Linked DNA regions of Homo sapiens. The protein of the gene in region 1 purifies or fractionates together with the protein of each later gene. This does not show direct contact. Each region holds a gene or a part of one and is shown in the gene's direction. Other genes may lie near its edges. The genes, in order: TSPAN15 and IGSF8.

The links.
Region 2: the proteins of TSPAN15 (region 1) and IGSF8 purify together in Homo sapiens (co-immunoprecipitation; 2 studies listed by BioGRID and IntAct, with this or other methods). This does not show direct contact.

Annotation. Positions count from the first base shown.
Region 1 is NC_000010.11:69,482,465-69,489,464, forward strand, and holds part of TSPAN15 (tetraspanin-15), read left to right. Parts: intron 1-1,226; coding exon 1,227-1,412; intron 1,413-2,676; coding exon 2,677-2,751; intron 2,752-7,000. UniProt on the Homo sapiens protein: Part of TspanC8 subgroup, composed of 6 members that interact with the transmembrane metalloprotease ADAM10.
Region 2 is NC_000001.11:160,090,541-160,095,829, reverse strand, and holds the end of IGSF8 (immunoglobulin superfamily member 8 precursor), read left to right. Parts: exon of another isoform or gene 1-409; intron 410-583; coding exon 584-961; intron 962-1,658; coding exon 1,659-2,120; intron 2,121-2,498; coding exon 2,499-2,906; intron 2,907-3,134; coding exon 3,135-3,548; intron 3,549-3,891; coding exon 3,892-4,007; 3' UTR 4,008-4,022; intron 4,023-4,198; exon of another isoform or gene 4,199-4,221; 3' UTR 4,222-4,487; downstream 4,488-5,289. UniProt on the Homo sapiens protein: Member of the immunoglobulin superfamily (IgSF) that links tetraspanin-enriched microdomains to the actin cytoskeleton and plays several important roles in innate and adaptive immunity.

The DNA of each region.
Region 1 (7,000 bases):
CTGCTCCAACCTTTGGCCTTCTCTGTGGTCATCCTGAAAGTAAATTCCGTGTTATGGTACTGTGTGAAATGTCTGTTGCCCTGAGCACGGGGTGACCTGCCTGTTTAATACGCGTTGTGGCGGCCTCGCACTTCCAGGTTTGTAGTGTTTCCACATTCATTCACTCGCGAAAGCCGTGGTGTGAGCAGTGCAGAAATGAATGTCTTCAAGTCTGTCTTTCAGATGAGAACACAGACTCACATGGTCAAATGCCTGTCCAAGGCCCAGGGTTAGCAAGTAGCAGAGCTGGGGCTCGAACCCATGTTCTCTGACCCTCCAGCCAGTGGCATTTCCCCTAACCCATCTATACTCTCCTCTAAAGTGGCATCTCCAGATTGGGTCTGTAGTAGTCTGCTAGGGCTGCCATAACATCAAGTACCAGACTGAATGGCTTAAACAATAGACATTTATTTTCTCACAGTTCTGGAGGTTAGAAGTCCAAGATCAAGGTGGCAGGGTTGATTTTTTTTTTTTGTTGTTGTTGTTGTTGTTTTTTGTTTTTTGAGACCGAGTCTCGCTCTGTTGCCCAGGCTGGAGTGCAGTGGCACAATCTCGGCTCACTGCAAGCTCCACCTCCTGGGTTCACGCCATTCTCCTGCCTCAGCCTCCCGAATAGCTGGGACTACAGGTGCCCGCCACTATGCCCGGCTGCTTTTTTGTATTTTTAGTAGAGACAGGGTTTCACAGTGTTAGCCATGATGGTCTCGATCTCCTGGCCTCGTGATCTGCCCGCCTCGGCCTCCCAAAGTGCTGGGATTACAGGTGTGAGCCACCGCGCCCGGCCTGCAGGGTTGATTTCTTCCGAGGCTTGTCTCTGGCTTGTAGACGCTGCCTTCTCCCTGCGTGTTCACACAGTCTTCCCTCTGTGAGTGTCTGTGTCATAATCTCTTCCCCTTATAAGGACACCAGTCATATTGGATTAGGGCCACCTTAGTGACCTCATTTTAACTTTAATTAGTTCTTTAAGGGCCCTGTCTCCAAATATAGTCACATTTCGAGGTACTGGGGGTTAGGATTTCAATAGAGAAAATTTGGGGAAACACAGTTCAGCCGCTAACAGGGCCCTTTCTGTGCTGTAACCTGGGGCAAGCCTCCCCCACAGCAGGTACCACAGCCCCAGATGACTCTTTGCTGTAGAAAATCAAGTGACCTCAGTCTCTCTCTCACCCTCTGTTTTCTTGCTGCAGCTGATTGGGGCCCTGGTCCTGTCTGTGGGCATCTATGCAGAGGTTGAGCGGCAGAAATATAAAACCCTTGAAAGTGCCTTCCTGGCTCCAGCCATCATCCTCATCCTCCTGGGCGTCGTCATGTTCATGGTCTCCTTCATTGGTGTGCTGGCGTCCCTCCGTGACAACCTGTACCTTCTCCAAGCAGTGAGTGGACCACACCACCCCTCAGCCGGGACTCCCCAGGAGAGCTGGGGCGCCTGCCCCTGTGCCCTTGGGCAGCTCAGTTTCTTTTGTCCCTGCCTCAAACCACCTCCTTTAGAGAGCTCCTTAGATCAGCCCATCTGACCACACTGGCCCAAGAATGCCCAGGCCACCTCCCCTCCTGCATGTAAAAGCTGATTTGAATACTGTTCTTACTTAAACTCTGTGTTCATCTGGATGCTCAGTTGCGAGTAGGAAAAACCACACTCAAATGAGAGCAAGCAAAGACAAAAAAAGGAGATGGTAGTGAGTCATTAGCTCATGCAACCAGCAAACCCACACTGGGTCCAGGGGTTTAGATGGCGCCACTGGGCAGGGTTGGGCAATCTCCCCAGCCCCTGCCAGCCGGGGCTGCTCCCTTTGCAGTGGTCACTGCCGGCGTCAGGCCAACAAAGTCCTTATGGTTCTAGATCTCAGGAAATCTTTCCTACCAGCTCTGGCCAAAGTCCCAGGACTCTGGTGGGCCTGGCTTGGGCCATGTGCCCATTCTGGGATGGGGCATGGGGAGTCAATCCTACCTGTATCCCATTATTGTGGGGTGAGGGATGACTCCCTAAAGCTGGGGGTAGTGAGTAGGCAGATCCATTCACTCTGCACTTGTGTGTCTCTTGACCTCATTGTCTCCCCTCATATGGGAAGCCCCTACGATCCACTGTAAACCGGGTTTGGGTGCTACTTGAGGCTGGAATTTGCTGAAATCAGTTTGGGTAATGCCTGCTCTCTAGTAAAGGGCAGAGGTGGGGGTGCATATCCTCTAAGCTTCAGCCATCCCCCTCACCCACTGTGGGGGATCTGGGAAGTCACATCTGAGGGCTCTCTGTGGGGAGCTGGACATACTGCCCCAGCCTGCCCATTAAGCCAGGCCTAGCCCCTCTGGCTCAGTGGCAACGAGGCCCAGCTCTCCTTATGGTGGTGGGGGAAGGGCGTGCTCTTCCACATAGACCCCCAAGACAAATGGAGGTAACCATTTGGCTGGGACAGCTGAGTCACTCTTCCTGCCCTCCGGCTCCAGAGACAGGTTTTCCTGGGGCCTGCCTGTCCACGTCCACGTTCTCACAGGAGGAGGGGGCAGAGGCCTAGGAGCTGGTAGGAGCTCCCCGAGGGATGCTTCTCTTTGTGCTTGCTCTTGGAGCAGATGGTGCCTCCCCTGTACCCCACACACGCCCACTGCTCCTCTCCAGGTGAGTCTCTGAATTCTGTTTTCCAGTTCATGTACATCCTTGGGATCTGCCTCATCATGGAGCTCATTGGTGGCGTGGTGGCCTTGACCTTCCGGAACCAGGTGGGCCTGTGGATTTGTGTATCGGCCATGTGTGTATGGAGCACCCACTGTGGGTGCCTTGGGCTAACTGGGGGTATGGCAGTGAGCAGGGCAGATAACCCCCATGGAGCTTTCATTCTGCTGAAAGAGAATGACAGGCACTGAACAAGTAAAGCAGCGACTAAGAAAATGAACCAAGCTGACATGAGAGCGCCTGGGGAGGAGATGGGAGGCCCGTGCTGAAATGGTAAAAGGAGCCAGCTGAGTGAGGTCCCAGCAGAGGGAAGCTGAGCAGAAATGAGCTTAGCATGTGAGCAAAACAGCGTGGAGGCCACGTGGCTGAGGGTAGGTGGGGTGGAGAGGGGTGGAAGGTGAAGTCGAAAGGGCTGGCCAGGCAGATCACAGAGGTCCTTGTAGGCCATGAGTTGGGAGCTTGGAGTTTTTTCTAGAGGTGACAGGAGCCTTTGGAGAGTCTTATGTGGGAAGCGATGTGACCCAGTTTATATTGTACCATGGCTGCTGAGTTGGGGAATGGACAGTGAAGAGTTGAGGGTGTACACAGGGGCCCAACTGGGAGGCTGTGGGGGGTCATCCTGGGAATGGGGTAAGATTGCTTGTACCAAGGTGGAGGCAGTGGGCCTGGGCCAAAAAGGCGATTTGATGTATATTTTGGAGGCAGTACCATCAGAGGCTGTTATGCCGGCTAGAGGAGTGAGGAGAGGGGCAGGTTGACAGGGTGATGCCTGGCATCCTGGCCCTGGCAGGGTTTGCAGAATCCGGGCCCCTTAGAGCCAGAAAGGTTCTCGTGGCTCCCGGCTCCAGCTCCTTCAGGCAGGATGTACGCACCTCATACTAGCTGTGCCACCTTGGGCGAGTTACTTGGCCTCTTGGATTATTAGGGGACACCTAGCTCACAGATCTGATGAGAGAATGCCTGTGAAGGACTGGGCACGGTTCTGGCACATAGTGGTCAAGGCCCCACAAGAAGCTGGTGGTGGAGCAGGGCTGACTCCAACCCAGGGCTCCATCTTTCCTCCCATAATCTTCTTCCTTGTCCTCATCCTGCATTGCTGCCATAGGTGGGGCTTGAGGAGCAGGACATGTTTGCAGAAGCCCCATTCTCTGTGTCCACTGCCTGGCCTGTACCCCTCCCTACCCCAGACAGCTTGGTCCTGGTGCATCTGGACAGTTGCTGCTGGGACATGCGTCAGAGCTGTGAGCCAAGTTATCTTTTTTTTTAAAAATAATGTTTGTTTATTTTTTTGAGACAGGGTCTCACTCTGCCACCCAGGCTGGAGCAGTGGTGCAGTCATAGCTCACTGCAGCCTCGAACCCCTGGGCTCAAGTGATCCTCCGGCTTTAGCCTCCCAAGTAGCTGGGACTACAGTCATGCACCCCTGTGCCCAGCCAAATTATCTTTCTTTTCAGCAGTTGCTCTTAAGGCAGCAGGTGCTGTCCCACACCCTGGGTTGTGCAGACCTCTCAGATGGCCCAGGATCTGGCCCTGTGAAAATGTTCATGGGAGTGCCTGTGATTCCAGCCCAGGTGGGAGCAGGGACCACACCAGTTCTGCTGGGGCCTCCTGCAGTGGGACCTAACCACAGGCAAGTCTACAAACCTGGAATCCAGAGGTCTTCCTGTTTTATGAGCCCCAGGAAAGGGGCTTTATTCCATTTGCCCATGAGGCTGCTTCTCCCTTTTCCTCTTTTCTACCTGCCCCTCCCTTTGCCTCTTTTCTGCTTATCAGAGCCTCTCTTCTGAGCTGGCAGATCCAGCATGCTGGTTCACTTTCCAGCAGCCTTGAGGGGAGAGATCTTTATTCCATTTGCCCATGGGGCTGCCTTTCTGTGCAGCCACCAGAGCTCCTGGCCAGCCTGCGGCTTTCCAGGGGCTACGGGTTAGTGCTTTCCTGGCTGGAGCCCAGGTCCAGTTTGTGGCCAACTAAACAGACTCCTGGATATAAGGAGGAATCTCCACCAGCCCGTGACCCCGGGCATGGTTTCTGCTGCTAGGCATGGCTTGACAGTCAGACTGAAGTGGCTTCTCCACTCATACAGGGGCAAGTGGCCATCCTATCAATGGAGTCATGGAGGCACACAGGAGTTAAGAATTCCCCCGAGAGCACACAGCAAGGCAGAGGTGCCTCAGGAATGCTTCCCAGTCCTGACTTGCTACCTGCCCCTCCCTGTCCCTCTTTTCTATTTGTCAGAGCCTCTCTTCTGAGCTGGCAGATCCAGGATGCTGGTTTACTTTTCAGCAGCTGTGAGGGGAGAGATCTTTATTCCATTTGCCCATGGGGCTGCCTCTCTGTGCAGCCAGCAGAGCTCCCGGCCGCCCTGAGGCTTTCCAGGGTTAGCACTTTCCTGGCTGGAGCCCAGGTCCAGTTTGTGGTCAGCAGCGTCCACGGCCTTCATAAACTATCCTCCAATGATGGGCAGCAGTTCTGGTTTCTAGTGCATTGCTGCAGAGGCCATCTGATTTGTCATTTTCCAGTGCCCTGTAGGTCAACAGAACATCACCTCCTTCTTTCAAGTGATGGAGCTGGGCTGAGATGAAGGCTTTGGCTGGCGGAACATCCAGGGGCCCTTCAGTGCTCACAGCTTGGGTTTCCGTGGGCCTGAGGTCAGGCCTGACAATTTCTCATCATCCCCAGACCCTGCAGATGCTGTAGTCCGTGAAGGGTGCTCCTTCCCCTTGGGTGGTGTCCCCTCATGGGTAGGGCCTTGGTATGCAGCCCAGGAAGGGTCCTCACTGACGCCTCTCCGCTGTTTGGAGGCTCAAGCCATGATTCGTCATCTTGAAAACTTAAAAAATGAGATACAAAATTATAAATGCAGTAAGATCGCTACAATGAAAAAAATAGGTCTACAAAAAGACTTAAAGGAATGGAAATATCAGCATATGAACTCATATTTCCTCTGAGGGATGAGACTAGGGTGATTTTTCTCCTCCCCTTTATATTTTTCCTTGGCTCTCAATTTTTTTTTATAATCAAGGGGAAAATATCACAAAAAGAAAAATAATATCCCTTCCAACTCTAATGTGATATGATTTTGTAAAACAGGAGTCAGGCCAGTGGCGGGGATGGGGGAGGAGCGGCCTGGCTGTTGATGATGGTAGGAAGGGCAGTGTATGATGGAGAAAAAGGTGAGGAGCAATCAAGGTCAGCTTCCAGGAGGAGGTGATTTCCCAATTCCATTTTTCCCTGATCAAGAGGATTTCTCTGAGCCACAATGTAACAAGTTCAGTCTCCAGTGCCATGGGCCCTGGTAACTCTGAGTATCTACTTATGAAAAGTCAGAACAAGTCATTAGGTATTGGGGGAACCCACCCCCAATATTTCACCATAGGTTCTTTCTATTTTCCATAAGTGTCAGCCAGCTGAGAAATAAAGAGAAAGAGTACAAAGAGAGGAATTTTACAGCTGGGCCGCTGGGGGTGACGTCACATTATCAGTAGGACCATGATGCCCACCTGAGCCTTAAAGCCAGCAAGTTTTATTAAGGATTTCAAAAGGGGAGGGGGTGCAAGAACAGGGAGTAGGTCACAAAGATCACATGCTTCAAAGGGCAAAAAGGAAAACAAAGATCACATGCTTCTAAGGGAAAAATCAGAAACTCCTCATAAGGGTCCAACAAAGATCACAAGGCAAAGGGCAAAAGCAAAGATCACAAGGCAAAGGGCAAAAGCAGAATTACTGATAAGGGTCTACCTTCAGTGGTGCACATATTGTCTTGATAAACATCTTAAACAACAGAAAACAGGGTTCGAGAGCAGAGAACCAGTCTGAACTCAAATTTACCAGGGTGGAGTTTCCCAATCCTGAGGGTACTGCAGGAGACCAGGGTGTATTTCAGTCCTTATCTCAACTGCATAAGAGAGACACTCCCAGAGCGGCCGTTTATAGACCTCCCCCTAGGAATGCAGTTCTTTTCCCAGAGTGTTAATATCAATATTCCTTGCTAGGAAAAGAATTTAGCGATATCTTCCCTACTTGCATGTCCGTTTATAGGCTGTCTGCAAGAAGAAAAATATGGCTCTTTTTGCCCAACCCCGCAGGCAGTCAGACCTTATGGTTGTCTTCCCTTGTTCCCTGAAAATCGCTGTTATTCTGTTCTTTTTCAAGGTGCACTGATTTCATATTGTTCAAACACACATGTTTTAAAATCAACTTGTACAGTTAACACAATTATCGTAGTGGCCGTAAGGTGACATACATCCCCAGCTTACGAAGATAACAGGATTAAGAGATTAAAGTAAGACAGGTGTA
Region 2 (5,289 bases), on another chromosome or scaffold:
ATGGCGCAGCTGGAGAGGGGAGGGCATTGTGTGGTGAGAACTGACTGGGCCTGTGCCCTTTCCAGCTAGGGTCACTGGCTCCATTGTCTCGCCCAGGTGACACAGCTGAGCCAACTAGCACTTCTGAGCAAGACTGCCAGCTCCCCTCAAGCAAAGGAGAGGGACATGTAGTCTCAGAGTCCCCTAGCCAGAAGGCTCCCCTTGCCAGGTGCTGAGGAAGGAATGGCAGACATGGAGGTGGGTGAGTGGCAGGGACAGATCAAGGTTCAGTTGGAACCAAGGCCTGGTTAGGTCAGGAATCAGATGTACTCCTTTCTGCCTTCAGGTGCTCTGCTTCTAGTCCGCCAGAAATGGGATGCATCTGGATGCCAAGGCAATCCTGGGCCCATGCCACCTCCTTGAGATCCAGGTGTCTTATATCACAGCATCCCTTTCCTATTCTCAGAACAGGGTCCAAGCTGTGGACAAGCTTTCCCAGGTCTCCTTTCCTTTTGTAGGCAGAGATCAAGAATGGTGCTTGTGGCGGCAGAGGGCATGGAATGAGGAACCAGGCATCTCCAACTCCTTCTGCCTTTCCCTACAGGAATGGGATGCTGGGCCCGGGAGGTGCTGGTCCCCGAGGGGCCCTTGTACCGCGTGGCTGGCACAGCTGTCTCCATCTCCTGCAATGTGACCGGCTATGAGGGCCCTGCCCAGCAGAACTTCGAGTGGTTCCTGTATAGGCCCGAGGCCCCAGATACTGCACTGGGCATTGTCAGTACCAAGGATACCCAGTTCTCCTATGCTGTCTTCAAGTCCCGAGTGGTGGCGGGTGAGGTGCAGGTGCAGCGCCTACAAGGTGATGCCGTGGTGCTCAAGATTGCCCGCCTGCAGGCCCAGGATGCCGGCATTTATGAGTGCCACACCCCCTCCACTGATACCCGCTACCTGGGCAGCTACAGCGGCAAGGTGGAGCTGAGAGGTACTGGGCCCTGGGACGGGGTGGAGCCACACACCCTCTCAAGGCAGAAAGTCAAGGCCACAAGTGACCTATCTAGTTGCCCCTTAGGTTTTGTAGCCAAGGAACTTGAGGCCCAAAGAGGTTAAGTGATTTGCACAAAGTCACCCAATAACTCAGTGGCTGATGTGGGACTCAAACCCAGAGTTCCTCACCCAGGCCAGTGCTCATCTTATCATATTAAGACCCCTCCTGGGAGAAGAAATGTCCTTAAGTTGTCCAGTCCACTTTCCATTCCCAAGAACGAAGAAGACTGTTGGGTTGAATAGCCTCTACTCCTGGACAGTACAGGACCCAGATCTGGGAAAGAGAGTAGAGTTAGGGAAGGAGTTAGACCATGTGACATTCTCACTCTCTTAAGTTTCTTTGTCTTCTGAGAAGAAAGAGCCGCTTTTCTCAGTATTTCAAACAGAGGTCAGTCTCAAACATAAGGGTGAGTAGGCGATGGGCTGGTTCTATGAAATTCTACAAGTATTTATTGAGCGCCTGTGCTGTGCCCAGTACTGCCCTTGGCACCACTGAGTTACAGAAGAAATAATACAACATGCGATCTTTGCCCTCTGGGAGCTCACAGTTTATTTAGGGAGATAGGCTATACACAGGAAACAGTAACAAGGGCTGCCAGCTCCCAGCCCTCCCTCACTCCAGCTGTTCTCTCCAGTTCTTCCAGATGTCCTCCAGGTGTCTGCTGCCCCCCCAGGGCCCCGAGGCCGCCAGGCCCCAACCTCACCCCCACGCATGACGGTGCATGAGGGGCAGGAGCTGGCACTGGGCTGCCTGGCGAGGACAAGCACACAGAAGCACACACACCTGGCAGTGTCCTTTGGGCGATCTGTGCCCGAGGCACCAGTTGGGCGGTCAACTCTGCAGGAAGTGGTGGGAATCCGGTCAGACTTGGCCGTGGAGGCTGGAGCTCCCTATGCTGAGCGATTGGCTGCAGGGGAGCTTCGTCTGGGCAAGGAAGGGACCGATCGGTACCGCATGGTAGTAGGGGGTGCCCAGGCAGGGGACGCAGGCACCTACCACTGCACTGCCGCTGAGTGGATTCAGGATCCTGATGGCAGCTGGGCCCAGATTGCAGAGAAAAGGGCCGTCCTGGCCCACGTGGATGTGCAGACGCTGTGTAAGTGCCACTTATACATCCCACTGTGGGAGCTGGGAGGGACAGTATCCTGGTGGGCACTGTGGCCACAGGGGGTACCAGATAGCCATCATCTGACTCCAAGGAACTCATCTTCCACAGAGTGAGCAGCCTTGCTAGCATTTCTCTCCCCCGGCCCTTGATGGGTTTTCTCTGCTCAGAAATTGGGTATAGAGATAGGAGGCCCATGCTGAGGGGTGAGATTCAAGCCCCTAAATAGAAAGATGGTCATACCTAGTGAGGGGGAGACAGGAGGTTTTGAAGTTGCTGCTGTCAAGTAGGAAACAGGAAGTTGGGGAATCGGGTGCCTCTGTGTCCCCTCCTGCCTCCATGACACCTCTTCCCCTACCTGTGTTTCAGCCAGCCAGCTGGCAGTGACAGTGGGGCCTGGTGAACGTCGGATCGGCCCAGGGGAGCCCTTGGAACTGCTGTGCAATGTGTCAGGGGCACTTCCCCCAGCAGGCCGTCATGCTGCATACTCTGTAGGTTGGGAGATGGCACCTGCGGGGGCACCTGGGCCCGGCCGCCTGGTAGCCCAGCTGGACACAGAGGGTGTGGGCAGCCTGGGCCCTGGCTATGAGGGCCGACACATTGCCATGGAGAAGGTGGCATCCAGAACATACCGGCTACGGCTAGAGGCTGCCAGGCCTGGTGATGCGGGCACCTACCGCTGCCTCGCCAAAGCCTATGTTCGAGGGTCTGGGACCCGGCTTCGTGAAGCAGCCAGTGCCCGTTCCCGGCCTCTCCCTGTACATGTGCGGGAGGAAGGTGAGAGGGGGCTGGGCCCTGGACGGGGTTCGAGGATTGTCAACCCCTTTTCCTTCTGTTTCCATGACCCCTCCCTCTCCGTCAGCTGTTTGCAGGCCACAGCCTCACGCTCCTCTTCTACCAAGATTGTGGGAATACCCTGAGTTTCCTGGGGCGGTGCTTGGCGGCAGCCCTAACCCCATGCTCCCTGGCCCTGCACCCTCTGACCCCATGTCCTTTGTTCTGCAGGTGTGGTGCTGGAGGCTGTGGCATGGCTAGCAGGAGGCACAGTGTACCGCGGGGAGACTGCCTCCCTGCTGTGCAACATCTCTGTGCGGGGTGGCCCCCCAGGACTGCGGCTGGCCGCCAGCTGGTGGGTGGAGCGACCAGAGGACGGAGAGCTCAGCTCTGTCCCTGCCCAGCTGGTGGGTGGCGTAGGCCAGGATGGTGTGGCAGAGCTGGGAGTCCGGCCTGGAGGAGGCCCTGTCAGCGTAGAGCTGGTGGGGCCCCGAAGCCATCGGCTGAGACTACACAGCTTGGGGCCCGAGGATGAAGGCGTGTACCACTGTGCCCCCAGCGCCTGGGTGCAGCATGCCGACTACAGCTGGTACCAGGCGGGCAGTGCCCGCTCAGGGCCTGTTACAGTCTACCCCTACATGCATGGTGAGTGACACCCCCTCCACCCTCCTCACTCTGCCTTCCTCCTGGCCTCTGCCACTGGCCTTCCCTTCCCATCTTCTGACCCTCCTGCTACTATCTCTCTCCTCCACATTATGTCACATGAAGTCTCAAAAAATCCAACTTCCAGCCCTGCAGTGCCCACCTGCACGGGGTCCTCTGTGGTTGATGCTGACTTGCATGCTGAGGGGGCAGGCTGTGGGCAGGGATGGGGGTGTCTGTGAATGGAGAAGGTGGGTTCAGAGAACTTGATGGGGAAAGCGCAGAGGCAAGTGTATGGGTGGAGGATGATGGCATCCTCTCTGAACAGTCATCCTCTCTCCCCCAGCCCTGGACACCCTATTTGTGCCTCTGCTGGTGGGTACAGGGGTGGCCCTAGTCACTGGTGCCACTGTCCTTGGTACCATCACTTGCTGCTTCATGAAGAGGCTTCGAAAACGGTGATCCCTTACTCCCCAGGTGAGGGAAAAGAACCCCCCAACCTTGTTTTCATTGGGCTTCCCACCCCCAAGTCCTGAACCAAGCTGCTCCCTCCCAGGCCCCACCTGGAGGAGGAGTAGGCAGCTCAGATCCACAGGGCCCTGTTAAGGGGTGGAGGCCGCGAGGGAGCCCCACTCAGGGCTCTCTGTCCTTAGCCCACACCGGGCACCCTTTTCAGGTCTTGCAGGTGTCGACTGTCTTCCGGCCCAGCTCCAAGCCCTCCTCTGGTTGCCTGGACACCCTCTCCCTCTGTCCACTCTTCCTTTAATTTATTTGACCTCCCACTACCCAGAATGGGAGACGTGCCTCCCCTTCCCCACTCCTTCCCTCCCAAGCCCCTCCCTCTGGCCTTCTGTTCTTGATCTCTTAGGGATCCTATAGGGAGGCCATTTCCTGTCCTGGAATTAGTTTTTCTAAAATGTGAATAAACTTGTTTTATAAAAAGCAGGCTTGGCTGTGTCTTCCCTACCATGAGACTGTAAAACGCTCAGGGTGCATAGTAGGGAGGTGGTTGGGGATTGACAACCTATTCTGGATGACCCAGGCCTCTCTTCCCACCACAAACACCATCTGGCCTCCATGGGCCATGCCACCCACCCCAGGAGGGGACACCTGGGTTCCATCTGCAGCCTGAACTGTCGGGGCTGAGACAACTCCTGATTGGACTCCTACTTGGGGAGGGAAGCATAGAAAAGGAGGGTAGGTTCCAGCTGCCTGTGGTCACCCCCGCACCAGCTTCTCCCATGTTAAAGGGCATGGGCCTCCAGGGGCAGTGCCTTTTCTGAGCTTCCCAGACTTTCCCCAACTCTTCCCACGTCTCATTCTCCTGGTCAGGCTAGTCTTGGACCTGACTCCTCCCACTAGGCCCTGGGGCTGAAATTGTTGTTCCTTCTGACCCATAGCAGCAGAATAGAAGCCTCAGAACACAACTGATACTCAGGCTGGGACAACAGGCAGTCAGGGGAGGGCCTGTGTGTCCACAGAGCCATTGCACCCACATGTACTCGCTGTACCTGCATATACCCTCTACCCGCATATACCCACTACACCTGCATATACCCGCTTCACCTGCCTGTACCTACCCTGGGGTCTCCTCCCTCCCACCCTTCAGCTTCACCCCTCCTCCAGTGCCCCAGGAGTTTCATGAATTTTCTTGCCTAAGGATTCTCTGATCCTAAAATTCTTACCTGCACGGCACCTTAAGAGGCATCTGGCAGGCCTCCTTCAGTTGTTATTTAAACATTTA